Linked DNA regions of Homo sapiens: all the other regions are linked to region 3. Evidence: fine-mapped expression QTL. A gene starts in region 3. Each other region holds a variant in brackets. All regions are shown on one strand. Distances are from middle to middle. Region 1 has its middle 660 kb from the start of SPANXN2. Region 2 has its middle 56 kb from the start of SLITRK4. Region 3 holds the start of SLITRK4 (SLIT and NTRK like family member 4).

Evidence for each region. PIP is the estimated chance that this variant, and not a neighbour inherited with it, causes the effect. A credible set is the group of variants that fine-mapping cannot tell apart.
Region 1: its variant is the best candidate, but not a certain one, in a credible set for the expression of SLITRK4 in esophagus mucosa (GTEx, PIP 0.57).
Region 2: its variant is the best candidate, but not a certain one, in a credible set for the expression of SLITRK4 in whole blood (TOPMed, PIP 0.76).

What each region holds. Positions count from the first base shown.
Region 1 is chrX:144,375,673-144,380,900 of GRCh38, forward strand. No RefSeq gene overlaps it. Among named protein-coding and RNA genes, the nearest start is that of SPANXN2, 660 kb to the left of the region's middle. The variant C/A (reference allele first, on the strand shown) is at 2,625.
Region 2 is chrX:143,577,405-143,582,632 of GRCh38, forward strand. No RefSeq gene overlaps it. Among named protein-coding and RNA genes, the nearest start is that of SLITRK4, 56 kb to the right of the region's middle. The variant C/T (reference allele first, on the strand shown) is at 2,109.
Region 3 is chrX:143,633,077-143,638,304 of GRCh38, forward strand. SLITRK4 (SLIT and NTRK like family member 4) reads right to left here and starts at 3,025. Exons shown (of 2, transcript NM_001184749.3): 1 at 2,659-3,025.

The DNA of each region.
Region 1 (5,228 bases), 740 kb after region 3:
TTGCAGCAAAATTAGCCAGGCATGGTGGCACATGCCTGTAATCCCAGCTACTCGGGAGGCTGAGGCAGGAGAATCGCTTGAACCCCGGAGGTGGAGGTTGCGGTGAGCCAAGATGGCGCCATCGCGCTCCAGCCTGGGCAAAAAGAGCAAAACTCCGTCTAAAAAAAAAAACAAAAAAGAAAATTGCAGAGGGTGATACAGCTCATAACAAGCATAAGAGCACTTTACTTCCCTAGAAACCCCTTATCTAACAAGTTCAATGCTCTGGAACACAGGCAAGAGCCAAAAGTTAGTAAATAAGCCTTATAGTAGTTACAGAATAATATTAAAATGTGAAGACATTTTTATATGGCCCTCTTCTACATGACATTTGTCAGTATCATTTTATTATATTTCTATTGTTTTACTTTTTTAATTTTCATTGTAAGTTTAAGGGTTTGAGTGCAGGTTTGTTTTATAGGTAAAGTCATGTCATGGGGCTTTATTGTACAGACTATTTCATCACCGAGGTATGAAGCCTAGTAGCCATTAGTTATTTTTCCTGATCACCTCCCTCCTCTCACCCCCATCCTGCGTTAGGCCACAGTGTCAGTTATTACCTCTGTGTGTCCATGTGTTCTCATTATTTAGCTCCAACTTATAAGTGAGAACATGTGGCACTTTGTTTTCTGTTCCTGTGTCAGTTTGCTAGGGATAATGGCCTGCAGCTCAATCCATGTTCCTGCAAAGGACATGATCTTATTCTTCTTTTGTGACTACATAGTATTCCATGGTGTATATGTATCACATTTTCTTTATTCAGTCCCCACTGATGAGCATTTAGGTTTCTTTTATGTCTTTGCCATTGCAAATAGTGCTGCAATGAACATACGCATGCATGTGTCTTTATAATTGAACAATTTATATTCCTTTGGCTAAATACCCAGTAATGGGATTCCTGGGTCAAAAAGTAGTTCTGTTTTTAGGTTTTGAGGAATTGCCACACTACTTTTCACAATGGTTTTACTAATTTACACTACTAGCAACAGTGTTTAAGTGGTCCTTTTTCTCCACAACCATGCTAGCACCTGTCATTGTTTGACTTTTCAGTAATAGCCATTTTGACTGGTTTGAGATGGTATCTCATCGTGGTTTTTCTTTGCGTTTCTCTAATGATCAGCGATGTTGAGCTTTTTCTTAAGATGTTCGTTGGCCACATATATGTCTTGTTTTGAAAAATATTTGTTTATGTCCACTGCCCACTTTTTAAGAGGGTTGTATTAGTTGCTTTTTACACTGCTATAAACAATGACCAGAGCCTGGGTAATTTATGAAGAAAAAAGTTTTAATTCACATGCAGTTCCAGAGGGCTTGGGAGGCCTCAGGAAACTTCCAATCAGGTGGAAGGCAAAGGGGAAGCCAGGCACATCTTACATGGTGTCAGGAGAGAGAGAGCACTAAGGGGGAAGTGCCACTTTTAAACCATCAGATCTTGTGAGAACTCACTCACTATCATGAAAACAGCATGGCAGAAACCAACCCCATTATCCAATCACATCCCACCAGGTCCCTCCCTTGACATAGGGATTATAATTTGAGATGAGATTTGGGTGGGGACACGGAGCCAAATCATATCGGGGGTTGCTTGTCCTTTCTCTTATAAATTTGTTTAAGTTCCTTACAGATGCTGAATATTAGACCTTTGTCAGATGCATAGTTTGAAAGAAAAATTTCCCATTCTATGGGTTGTCTGTTTATTCTTTTGATAGTTTCTTTTGTTGTGCAGAAGCTCTTTAGTTTAATTAAATCCCATTTGTTAATTTTTGCTTTTGTTGGATTGCTTTTGTTATCTTTGTCATGAAATCTTTGCCTGTTCCTATGTCCAGAATGGTATTGCTTAAGTTGTCTTCAGGGTTCTTATAGTTTTGTGTTTTACGTTTAAGTCTTTGATCCAATGTGGGTTGATTTTTGTATATAGTGTAAGGAAGTGGTCCAGTTTCAATCTTCTGCATATGGCTAACCAGTTATCCTAGCACCATTTATTTAATAGAGTGTCATTTCCCCATTGCTTGTTTTTGTCAGCTTTGTAGAAGATCAGATGGTTGTAGGTATGCAGCCTTATATCTGGGCTCTCTGTTCGGTTACATTGTTCTATGCGTCTGTTTTTGTAGCAGTATCATGCTCTTTTGGTTACTGTAGTCCTGGAATATAGTGTGAAGTCAGGTAGTGCACTGTCTCCAGCTTTATTCTTTTTGCTTAGAATTGCCTTCACTATTTGGACTCTTTTTTGGTTCCATATGAATTTAATTTCTTTTTCTAGTACTGTGAAGAATCTCAATTGTAGTTTAATAAGAATGGCATTGAATCTATAAATTGCTTTGGGAAGTATGGCCATTATTACAATATTGATTCTTCCTATCCACGAGCATGGAATGTTTTTTAATTTGTTTGTGGCATCTCTGATTTCTTTGAGCAATGGTTTGTAGTTCTGATTGTAGAGATCTTTCACCTTCCTGGTTAGCTGTATTCCTGGGTATTTTTTGTTTTTATGGCAGTTGTGAATGGAATTGTTTTCCTGATTTGGATCTCAGCTTGACTGTTGTTGGCGTATAGGAGTGCTAGTCATTTTTATAGGTTGATTTTCT[C/A]CCCTGAGACTTAGCTTAAGTTATCAGCGGAAGGAGATTTTGGGCCAAGACTATGGGATTTTCTATATATAGAATAATGTTGTCTGGAAAGGGATATAGTGTGACTTAGTAGCTTCCTATTCAGATGCCATTAATTTTTTTTTCTTTTACCTGATTACTCTGTGCAAGACTTCCAATACTATGTTGAATAGGAATAGTGTTCTTCATTTTTATCCATATTCGGATTTCTATTTCTGTCATTTCAGCCATCTCAGCCTGCTTCAGAACCCTTTCTGGAGAAGTGGTGCTGTCATTGGGAGGAAAGAAGTAATGCTGGCTTTTTGAGTTTTCAGAGTTCTTATGCTGGTTCTCTCTCATCTCTGTAGGTTGATGTTCCTTAAATCTGTGAAGTTGCTGTCCTTTGAATATGTTATGTCCATTTTATGACCTTGAGAATTTTATTGTGATATAAGGTGTATTCAGTTGACTGGCTTCATTTCTGGAAGATTTTAGGCAGCTATGGCTCAGGACATAACCGTGTGCTGCATGCTCTGACTCTGGAAACTTGTATTGGGCTCCAATTTTTTTTTCTGGCTCCCTGAGTTTAGAAACCCACTGTGATGGGGATGCTGAAGAGCTGTCAGACTTCTGGTCAAGCACTCTGATGGGTTGTGCTGGGCAAAGAATTTTGTAGGGTGGTGGTAGCAGGATTGGTCCTTGTTCACACATGCCAGCAGCAGTGACAGCCTCACAGTGGCAGGGTGCATGCTCATTGGCTGCAGCAGAGTTGAGCAGATGCTGGGGTTCCTGCCTCTGTGCAGGTGTTCAAAACAGCAATGGAGGCAACACAGCTGGGGGGAGGCAGTGGGGACTCCTATTGGTGACTGTGCGTTCTGTGTGCTTGTGGTGGTGTTAGTACTGGAGCAGGTCACTGGCAAATGCAGATCTGTGTGCATCCTCTGTGAATATTTATGCAGGCAAGGGTGACAGCCCAGGATAGGGGAGGTTCCATTGTTTTCTTTGTCTAGTTTCACTTTGGCTGCAGTGTTGGCACTGGGTGGAGACATTGGCGGGGGCAGTTCTGGTGGCCTTTGTGCCTGCCTTTGTTCTTGTTCACACACGCCAGCAGCAGTGGCAGCATCATTGTGGCAGAGTGCACACTCATTGGCTGCAGCAGGGTGCTAGCAGATGCTGGAGTTCCTGTCTCTGCACAGGTGTTCACAGGAGCAATGGAGGCAGCACAAATTCAACATGGCCAAACTCCATGTTTTGAAAAAACAATTCATAATAAGACTACTCAGTTTTTTAATAAGTTACTAATATGGTTTGGATGTACCCCTGCCCAACCACACCTTAAATTGCAATAATTCTGACATGGCAACAGTGGGGCCAGGTGGAGATAATTGAATCATGGGGGCAGTTTCCCCCATACTGTACTCATGGTAGTAATTAAGTCTCACAAGATCTGATGGTTTTATAAATGGGAGTTCCCCTGCACAAGCTCTCTTGCCTGCCTCCATGTAAGACATGACTTTGCTCCTTATGTGCCATCCACCATGATTGTGAGGCCTCCCCAGTCATGCGTAACAGTGGGTCAATTAAAGCTCTTTCCTTTATAAATTACCCAGTTTTGGCTGCGTCTTTATTAGCAGTGCGAAAACAGACTAATACAGTAAATTGGTATGGGTAAAGTGGGATGCTGCTGGAAGTGACTTTGGAACTGGGTAACAGGCAGAGGTTGGAACAGTTTGGAGGGCTCAGAAGAGGGCAGGAAAATGTAGGAAAGTTTGGAACTTCCTAAAGACTTGTTGAATGGCTTTGGCCAAAATGCTGATAGTGATATGGACAATAAAGTCCAGGCTGAGGTGGTCTTGGATGGAGATGAGGAACTTTTTGGGAACTGGAGCAAAGATGACTCTTGCTATGTTTTAGCAAAGAGACTGGGGGCATTTTGCCCCTGCTCCAGATATTTATGGAAATTTGAACTTGAAAGAAATAATTTATGGCATCTGTCAGAAGAATTTTCTAAGCAGCATAGCATTGAAGAGGTGACTTGGGTACTGTTATAAGCATTCGGTTTTATGTATTCACGAAGATGTGGTTTGGAATTGAAACTTATGTTTAGAAGGGAAGCAGAGCATAAAAGTTTAGAAAATTGGCAACCTGACAATGCAATAGAAAAGAAAAACCCATTATCTGAGGACAAATTCAAGAGAGCTACAGAAATTTGCATAAGTAACTAGGAGCCAAGCATTAATTGCCAAGACAATGGGGAAAATATCTCCAGGGCACTCAGAGGTCTTCCAGGCCATCCCTCTAATCACAAGCTAGGAGGTATAGAAGGAAAAAATGGTTTCGAGGGCTGAGCCCATGGCCTTGCTGCTTTGTGCAGTCTCGGGACTTGGTGCCCTGTGTCCCAGCCATAGCTAAAAGGGGCCAATGTAGAGCTCAGGCCGTTGCTTCCGAGGGTGCAAGGCCCAAGCTTTGGCAGCTTACACTTGGTATTGGGCCTGTGGGTACACAGAAGTCAAAAATTGAGGTTTGGGAAGCTCCGCCTAGATTTCAGAGGACATATGGAAATGCCTATATGTCTAGGCAGAATTCTGCTGCAAAGGCAGAGCCCTC
Region 2 (5,228 bases), 56 kb before region 3:
CTATATGAAAGGGAGTTTATTAAGGAATATTGACTCACGCGATCGTAAGGTGAAGTCCCACAATAGGTAGTCTGCAAGCTGAGGAGCAAGGAAGCCAGTCTGAGTTCCAAACCTCAAAAGTAGGGAAGCCGACAGTGCAGCATTCAGTCTGTGGCCAAAGGCCCGAGAGCCCCTGGCAAACCACTGGTATAGGTCCAAGAGTCCAAAAGTTGAAGAACTTGGAAGTCCAATGTTCGAGGGCAGGAAGCATCCAGCACAGGAGAAAGATGGAGGCCAGAAGACGTAGCTAGTCTAGTCTTTCCACGTATTGTTGCTTTTATCCTAGCCATGTTGGCAACTGATTAGAAGGTGCCCACCCAGATTGAGGGTGGGTCCACCTCTAGCAGTTCACTGACTCAAATGTTAATCTCCTTTGGCACCACCCTCACAGACACACCCAGGAACAATACTTTGCATCCTTTAATACAATCAAGTTGACACTTAATAATAACCATCACAGGTTCAAAGTCCAAGAACACTGTTCTTTGCTCCCATCTGAAATTCGAACCATTTTTCAGGACTTTATTCAAATGCTACCTTTTTAAATAAAACCCCCAACTAAATTAGGAGGTTTGAATCTGGAGTCCATGTGCCTGGGGGATGTAAGAATAAATTTCCAAAGAGTTCTTGAACTCTTTACACTTAAATGCAAAATCATGTGCCCATATTTTTAGGGATAGAATCTTTTCTTTTCATCAGCTTTTTAACGGGAGTCAATGAATAAAAACGTTTCAAAATATCTTCATTGGTTTTGTGAAGAAAGGCAAGTGTTTCTTCTTATCCATCACTTTACCCCTGCTTAGCACAATGCAGTTCAGTAAATGATCACTGAAAGAATATATGTGTCTTCCTCTGAGTCTCCAAGTTGAAATTTCTCTCTTGGTCATTGTGATTCTCAAATCACTTGGTTTAGAAACGTACAAAACGTTCTTCATAGTTGTTATACTAATTTACATTACCACCTACAGTGTCCAAGAGTTCCCTTTTCTCCACATACTTGCTAGCATTTATTATTGCCTGTTTTATGGATATAAGCCATATCCAAGACATTTGGGGTGAAATGATATCTCATTGTAGTTTATATTTGCATTTCTCTGATGCTAATGTTGAGCACATTTTCATATGTCTGTTTGCCATTTGTATGACTTCTTTTGAGAAATATCTATTCAAATATTTTGTCCATCTTTTGATCAGATTATTAGATTTTTTTCTATAGTGCTGTTTAATCTCCTTATATATTCTCGTTATTAATTCCTTGTCAGAAGGGTAGTTGCCAATATTTTCTTCCATTCTGTGGGTTGTCTCTTCACTTTGTTGATTGTAACTTTTGTGCAGAAGCTTTTTAACTTGACGTGATCCCATTTGTCCATATTTGCTTTGGTCCTTCCCACTCTTCCCTCCCTTTTCCAAAGGCAGAGGAGCCACCCCTGGCCACAAGGAGTACTGCCAGACTACCACTGATTTTCCCTTAAGTCTCAAGGTCTCTTAAGTCAGCTTGTGGTGAGTGCTGTCTGTCCTGGGACTCATCCTTCAGGGCAGTGCACTCCCCTCTGTCACAGGGCAGGTCCAGAAATGTCATTCAAGAGTAAACAGTCTTGACTTGCTGCTCTACACCCCTGTGGTGATGTTGGTACTTGAAGCCAGCAAGTCTCAGAGGCTCACCAAAACCCTTGATGTAGCATAGCACCTGGATATTACTGCTGGTTATTCAGAGCCCATGCTAGCAGGACTGGATCCCTTTCTTCAAATAGGTTCTCTTCTGGCCCAGGGTATATCTATAAATATCATCTGGCTGATAGGGCCTGGAATGGGAGCCTCTTGACTCTGACTGGTGCCATATCCTGCTGTGGCTAAGCTGGTATTTCAGGTGCAAGAAACGATCCTCCCCACTCTTCTCTCTACTCTCCTCAAGAGGAAGAAAAGGGTCTTTTTTGGAGCTGTGAGCTGTGCAGCCTGGGATTAGGGGAGGGGTGATGCCAGCACATTTTGCCTGCCAAAGCTGGTGTCACAGTATGTCATGTGGCCTTCTAATCCATTATCTCTAGGCCTAGTTAAGCCCTTGAACTCAC[C/T]TAAGAGTTGCAGTGCTTATGGGCTAGAATGCCTTTCAAGTTTAGTTAGAGACTAAGAGCACTTTGGCCCTGGGTGGCAAGGTTTGCAGGCACTCAAGTTTGAACCACTGGGATTGGAAATTCCCCTCTGGCTAAGGCTGATTTGAATGCTCCCTCTGTGGGCAGGCATCAGCTGAGTTTGGTCTGGTTTTTCTTTTCTGCTCTAACAGAGCAGCACTGAGTTCAATGCTTCACAATTGCTGTGTTCTCCCTCCCCCAGTGCCCAGAGATACTCTCTGTACCAGGATTCCACTGCCAGAGATTGAGGAGGGGTGGCATCAGCAATTCAAGGCTGTTTTTTCTACCTTTTTGGTGCCTCTTTCAGTGATATGAAGCTAAAACCAGGTACTGAGTGCTCACCTTATTTTTGGTTCTTATAAAGGTGTGTTTTCTGAGTAGATAGCTGTTAATCTGATGTCCTTGCTGGGGGAACTATCAGTGAAGCTTTCTATTCCACCATATTCCTCTACCTCCCTTGAATTGGCTTCTTTATGATCATATAGATTGTAAGTTGAGTCAAATTCTTATCTGATTTTAAAAACTTTTATCATGTTCATATTATATTATATTACATTTGGCAGTATTATGTTATAATATGGTGCTGTAGTGTTGTGGGAATCAGAAGACCAGAGAGACCAATGGGTGGAACAGGAGGATTTTATTTAGGTGGCTACTGGCACAGCAGATTCACATCCAAAGGCTGAGCCCTGAACAAACACAGGGCTTGACTTTTATATACACTTCTGAAAGGGAATTGGCTAGTTTTAATGCAGTGGCAGGAAACTGAGGGCACAAAACCTGTGAGGCGGGCAGGCAGGCTTACAGAAGCAGAACAAAGGCAGTTAATCAAACTGTGACAGGTTTTGTAACCTAAGCATAGCTTGTGACCTTACAGCTGCATGGAAGGGAAAACAGGAACTTACAAAACTTGAGACACTGAGTAATGGTAAGGGGGAAGAGGAGATAGTAAAGGAATTTGTTTTTCTTATCCTTGCTCCAGGGAGGGGGAGGGGTTTGTTGGGAGAGTCTCCGGAGCTCATTCCTTTGGGCTCTGGCTTTCCAGATAGTGTTATTGAGACTTTGCCAGGGCCCTGCCTATTGCTGGCCTTGGAGTGAGTCAGCCAAGTATAGGAAAACTTGTTTTTCTCTTTTTAACTTCTGCTTCAATAGCTGTCCCTCAAGATTGTTGGATTGAACTGACTTGAACGGAACTGAATTGAATTTTCAGCATGGGCTGAATCATGGAATCAGCATGGGCTACCAGGCAGTCAGAAACCTTTGCTCAGGTCCAACCATCTCATGTTACAGGTGGGAAAATGGAAACATACAGTGGAGAGTGACTTGCCCAAATTCAGACAGCCAATAAATGGTTAAGCTGAGTTTCTTGCCTCCTGGATAAGTGTTCTTTCTTCCATTATGTTCTGTTCCCCTTTTATTTCCTTGGTTCATGCTGTACTGGAGTGAGATCAATGGGTCAACAAATACAGCTAAATCTCTATAAAAAATTATGCATGTCTTTACAGCATAATTTAGCTCATAACATTTTAAGATACATTTTGACAGCTGGTAATGATTATGGTTATTGATTAGACAATGCATTTTTATGCATCTAATTTTCTACATTTTTAATTTCAAATATTCTTTTAAAAACAGAAGTAGAAATGTGCCAGATCTTATGATAAGTGTAGGCTACTTAATTTGAAGCAATTGCAGTCCCTCATTAGTAATAAATTAAGTATTGAAGAGAGCAGATCACTTTAATGTGTCAAAAAGAGCCTTGTCACTTGACATAATTTGAGAAGTCAACATGTGCATTTTATAATGATCGTCCATATCCAGTATTTCTGATCTAGCTTACTCTCAGTTTCTATTACTCATGGGACTTACCCAAGACACTTGTTGAGTTACAAACAGAGCCAAATATAAAGAACAAAACAGTATCATAACTTGAATCTAAGAATAGTTGGAATGATATTTAGAACTGATCCACATCATGGAACGAAGTGTACCACCAGAAGAAGCTGCATTTGGTTGTGACTGTTTCTGTTACTCCAACATGTCTCTTCAAACCAGACAATTAAAAAATCAATTGTTTTTGTACTGATTTTTACCAAAGCAGTTTCAGTGAAAAACAAATTTTTAAAAATCCTCAACCCTCAAAATACTAATTAAAAGTATCAGTTTAGTTGATTTTTCTTTTGAACATTTTTGACCTAAATGCTTATAAACAGTATCATTTTGTATCTTTTAGTAACTATGGGCAACTGTTGAGTGAGTTCAGTCAATGATTAAATTAGTCATAAAAAATGAGTTTTGATAACGAGAAACAAAAAAGATGGTGAATGGTGAATTTAAGATTAAACCAATATTGACTTGATATAAATACAACAAATCAAGTCTCTCACATCATAAAAGTGTTTGGCTTTCTGTGAGAAATTTACCAAATGCTTTTTTATGATATTTTTACCAAATTTAGAAAAACAGGGAGCGCCAAGCAATTATTTAGCAGAAAGGCTAATAGACATAAATATCATAACAGCATCTTGTAAATGATGAAACTATATCATCAAAAGGAAAAGACAGAAATGCAATATGAGTACAAATATTTATAGGCACAATCTGCCCATTTGACAAGTACTGACTGAGTACCTACTACTCTGAGCAAACCACCAGGACCAGTGGTACACAGGTTGGAAACCTGACTATGGCAGGAGGCACACAGTCCTGCCCTCCAGGAGCTTTCAGTCTGTAGTGGGGAGAGCAGTACAGCACTAGCTGGAATAAAAGGTGTTAAGAGAAAGGAGGGAAAACACAGAATGAGGTCAGGGAAGGGAGAGAACACAATTTCAGCAGAGGAGGTATTTGAAATTGCATAGTGAGTATCTAGAGCTGACACTCCAGTTGAAAAGACTGCCAGTCTCCTGGGCACACTACTCATTCTAATGTAGTGTGATCAGGTTGTGCCAGTGGTGTAAATGGAATAGAAGAAGATCTGGGAAGATGCTTAAAGACAGTCATATGTGAGCTGGACTTAAAAACTAATAAAATATAGTGCTAGAGAAGTAAGTAGGTGCCTAATCA
Region 3 (5,228 bases):
CATAAGGAGCTGCCCTCCTCCTGGTGATTGCTACTTTAAGTAGCAAGGGGGGGAAAAGGCACTAGTAAGAGCCAGGAAGTTCCCAAATGCAGCTCTTGTGAAACAGAGGAAGCCACAAGCAGCTGGAGGGGCAGGCAAGAGAGAGAAAGAGTCCAGTTGGTCCACCAAGGAGAGAGGAAAAGAGGTACTGAAAGGGCAAGAGACCATGGAAATGTGGAGAAAGGAAGAAAAAGAACTCGGAGAAGGGAGCTACAAAGAGGGTAAAGGGAGCACTGAATGTATGCGAATAAAGCCTCACACTCCGGTGGTACCACTGAAACATGCACATTTAAACATCAAGGGAAAAACGCAAAAAAGAAAAGAAAAAGCCCACAAAGTACCAGCTGGGTACCAAGAGCCTTCTCTGTGGCTGCTGGGAGCTGTCCGTCTTCCTCTCGGTGCCCTGAAAGACCCTTGGCTCTCACGACCAGCCAGGACTGAACAAACCTAGCCCGACCAAAAACAAATCCTGCATCCACCGGAGTGCAGCGCCTGGCACTCCGCGACTGGGAGGAGAGAAGCGGCCTGAGGGGGGCAGAACACTGATGGGCTTCAGGGCGGTGGGCCGAGGTGGCTCCCCGAGAGCTCCCTCGGGAAACCCCGCTGGCCCGCCTAAGGCTCGGATGGAGGTGGAAGAGGTTCGCGGAGAGACCCGGCCATTGCCGCCCGGGTGCGCTACCTCGGGCGGGCGGCGAGGAGGCTGGAGGGGCTGCTAGCGCGTACCGCAATGTTTTGCCGCATCCCTGTTCCCGGAGCCGGCCGCTCAGCCCCCTCCGCGTCAGGGGCCCAAGCAGCAGCCTGGCGGTCCGTGTAGCGGAGGCGGGGTACCGCGCGGGATGTCGCGGGGGCCTTCAGTCCCGCCGCTCACACATTTCTCCGCGCGCTCCCGTCCCACAAGGGGCAGCTGCCGGAGTTTCAGTGGACCTCTCTAGACCCAGGCGTGCGGTGGGTGAGGAGGAAGAGAGGCCAGATCAGGCCGCCTCGAAGACGTTGGCACTAGGGAGTCACTGACCTGCTTGCCACGGGCAGAGTGACCCTGTGGTTTTGTGGCTGCGAGCGGCGGCCCAGGCTCCCCCTTGCCTGTTCTCCCTCCCTGGCCAGCTACAAAAATCCTGCTCTCACCATGCCAGAAATCAGCTCAACATTTAGGCCCCTTGCAAAGTCGCGCTGGCAGCGCTCGCCTGGCTTTGCAGAGCTTTTAGAGTTACCCACCGGCTCTTCCTCTGGTATTCCTAGTCTTGCCGAGCGCTAGCAATCTCCGACCAACCCGCGGGCCACTGCCCCGAGCCTCAGATCCACGTCTGCGGAAAGTGGCTGCGAGTGGGGTGCAAAAATAAAGCCCAACCCAGCCCAGCGGCCCGACAGCCGGAGCCACCCGAGACCTGTACAACTTGCCCCGCCGCCCTGGCCGCTTGGGGTATGGTGGGGGGGGGGGCGGGCAGCGATGCCAAGGACACCCGGATCCTTTCCGGTCCTCAGCGGCATGAGACCGCGTCGTAGGCAGGCAAGTGGGAGGTGGAGGGCAGGATTAGCCACCTCGGCCACTTTGGCCACTCAACCGGCCCCAAACCAACAGGACCCAAACTAAAAATAATAAGCTACCTGCCCCCTCGGCTCGCGTGCGCGCGCGCGAGATCTCTCTCTCTCTCTCTGTCTCTCTCTCACACACACACACGCACGCACACGCGCTACTGAGCTGAGCGGGGAAGAGGCAGCACGCGTGTCGGTGCAGCTTGTGCAGCCCCCGCTGAAAATTCACCCACCTCTAGAGCCCAGCGTCTGGTGCAGGGCCCGCGGCGCCGTGACCTGCGCTGCTGTTTCCACGATGGTATCTATGTGATTCCGGACAGAGCTCCTCCGCGCCCGCTCGCCCGTCAAACCCACGGAGCAGCCCCAGCAGGCGAGCAGGCGGGCCGGCGGGCAGGCGGGCAGCGGCGCGCGCGCGCACCCGAGCAGACACCGCGCGCGCACCCAGCGCCTAGCACACGGGCTGCACCTTTACATACACGCGCTGAATCCCCGCCCCCGCTCTCCACCACCCCCCCCCACCCCGCACACAAGCAGTCCTTCCTCCCGACACTCGACCACTTTGACCCCCTCACATTCCTGAGCTCCTACCCCCGTCCCCCATCCAGACATGCCCATTTGATTCCTCTTCTACCCACACACCCAGAAAGACAGCGCGCTTTCCTCCCGGCATCCGCCCCCTCTTTTTGCCTAAAACATTCCCTAGGGAGGAGCGACCCCTTTCCTCAGGCGTGGAGACCCCAGTCCTCTAACAAGGGCGCACTCGCCTCCATCCCCCCCACCACATACACACACACTCGAGCCCTTTTCTTCTCTTCCAGTCCCCTAATAACGAAGGAACACACACACACACACACACACACACACACACACACACACACACACACGGGGCATTCCTTTGAGAGAGCAACCAAGAAGCCAGGAAAAGCCAAAGAAACACTGGAGAGCCTGGGGGAGGGGGGCCGAGGGAGATCGATAGGGTCGTCGAGTCTACGCGGAATTGAATAATTACAGGATGGAGGGGAATGAGTCAACAACAATGACATTCAAATGCAACAATCATACTTGGATTTTGTATCACGGGTACGGTACCTTTGGCTAATTGTCACCCCGCAGAACGGAGGGCTCCTGGAATACTTCTCCGTGGCGGTCGATCCTGGAAGGAGCCTTCTTGGGAACCAATTTCCTAGGATCCAGTAGTATTCGCACTCCCCCTACCTGTCTGCGCGTAAGGGGCCAGGGGCTTTAAGGCGAAAGTGTGAGGCTTTAGCCTAAAGTGAGACTATTTAGCCGGGTTAGAAGGAGACGGGTTAATTATCCGCACCTTAGAACTCCGTGGGCCTTTGGTGCAGAATGGGTTAAGCCGGATGATCTTGGAGCTGGGGGTGGGGATAGGGGATAGGGGATAGGGGTTGAGGAAAGAGAGGCGTGGGACTGGGAGAGATGCCGCACTTGCGACCAAAAGAAAAAAAAAAAAAAAAACTACTTTGGCTACTGAGCATGCCCAGTTCCCAGCTCAAGCCCTATAAGGGAGGCATTGTGTGCATTCCACTTCTCCGGGCTTTGGTGGTGACCGGGAGGGGAGTTTGACTGGGGAAGGGGGTGGTAGTTGGGAGACATTAGGGAAAGGGGGTTGGAGAACAAGGTTTGAAGCTTTGGGACTGCTCAGGAGGGACTGTGAAGAGAGAAAGGGAAGGGACCCACGGAGTACCTTCGGGAGACGGGGAGAAGGAGAGGAAATGGACTAAGAAAAGTCACTTCAGTCGCCCCTCATTGTGTATACCAAAGAGGCTTTAGCAGCTGAATCTGAAATATCCAGTGGCTGCAAATCCAACGTGTGGATTGTCTAGGCCCCTTCTTCTACCCTTTTTGTTAGTGCTTCCACAAGAGATAAGAAATATTCTGAGGAAGGGCCAATGTTCAAACCAGTTTCATGCAAATTGATAATTTCGTTAATAAGCTTGTTAAGAAAATAAATAAACCTGGGGGAGGGGAGCAGAGAGGAGTTGGCTATCATGTATGTATTTCAGATACCTGGCTTTCCTAAACAAAAGGCATAAACATTGGATGTGCTCCCATCCCCCAACCTTGCTGTTTTTTGTAGGAGCTTGGCTAAGAAAAACAACTCTCTCTCTCTTCGTGTCTGTGGGAATAAACTAGCTTTAGGTAAGTAGAGCTAAGTTATAAATGGGAAGTATTTCCCTAGGACTCTTGGTAGCCTATTATTTGCCACATTCAGGTAATACTGCCAGGCCCATTTCTTCAGGACCAGTGTGTTGCCCAATTTACTTATTCAAATCCCAGCGGCTCTAGCCACAATAGAGCACAACCGGTATCCAGAAATGTTCTTGCTTAAAAATGAAAAAAAAAATCTTTAAGCTAAAACTAGCAACAGCTTTGAAACCAGAATTTGGCTGTCTGCCTGAACTCCTACAGTTAAACATTTACCATAATTGGTTGATGTTTAAAGGCCCCAAATCTAGGTAGAAACATCTGATGGGCAAAGGATTTATTACATTATTTGTGAATAATGGTCTACCTTCTGTATCATCTATAGTAGTCATTCATATACATGTTTCATTGTTTTTCATTTTTTGTCATTTTATGGGACTTCCGTCAGGTTATATTCACACAAATGTTCACCGGGCACAACATGTATACAGAGATGCACGTACAATATGTAAATGAATACTTAAATAGATATGCGTGTATGGGCATATTTCTTTATGACCTTGCTAAATATTGTGTCGTTCATGAAGAACTCTTTCTCTACCTTCACTCCACATTGCCTTGAAAACTGTAATCATCCTCTCTTTTACAAACAACCTAGAGACAGAAATTGGGCAGCATTGGTAAAATTTATCTTATTCAATGTGAAATCCATTATGAAATAGCATTAAGGAAACACTAAAATATTTGTCTATAACAGCGTATGTAATTGTGCAGCTCCTTTTAGCAAAGTGAATGATGTTTCCTTCATAGGTAACAGCTGCAGAATGTTGAAAAATCCCTCTACTCTTGCACACTTGGACAAAACAGATCCTGCTAATTAATAACTCACATTTGCATTTTATTGTGTAATGCAGTTTGAAAGTAGTAATGGGTATCAAAACAAGTTGGCATTTATTCTAAATGCTAACAATTCAGGAAGCTGAATATATTTTATCCAGATAGGTGAAATGTTTGTCTTTTACTACAAATGTTAACAAGAGTCAATAGAATGAGCAAAAAAAGTTTACCTGAAAATTCTAAGTAATGTGATAACTGAAAAGGCCAGATTTGGACAGTAAATATCAGATGATTTAAATGCCTATCTTTATTCAACTTTAGAAACTGTTCTGAGACTTGGCTATATTTAACTGCAATAACTGTGAAATGTTATTTTTCATATGGATATGGAGACAAATCTGAAAGCCACTGTAGCTAGATCATCGATAAATTACAATTCATAATATTCCTAAGAACTTATCTGTGATTAATATTCAACTTTTTTAAATGAATGCTTTAAAATAAAATGTTTTGCTACTTAAAAAGATAAAGTGGACACTCATAAAATAAAACAGAAGTAACAACTTCCATGTTTTATGCTTATTTTGCTTTCAAAGTAATTAACCCAATCCTTTAGTCCCACAGTCCCTTTTCCGTCCCCTAGAACTACAGGT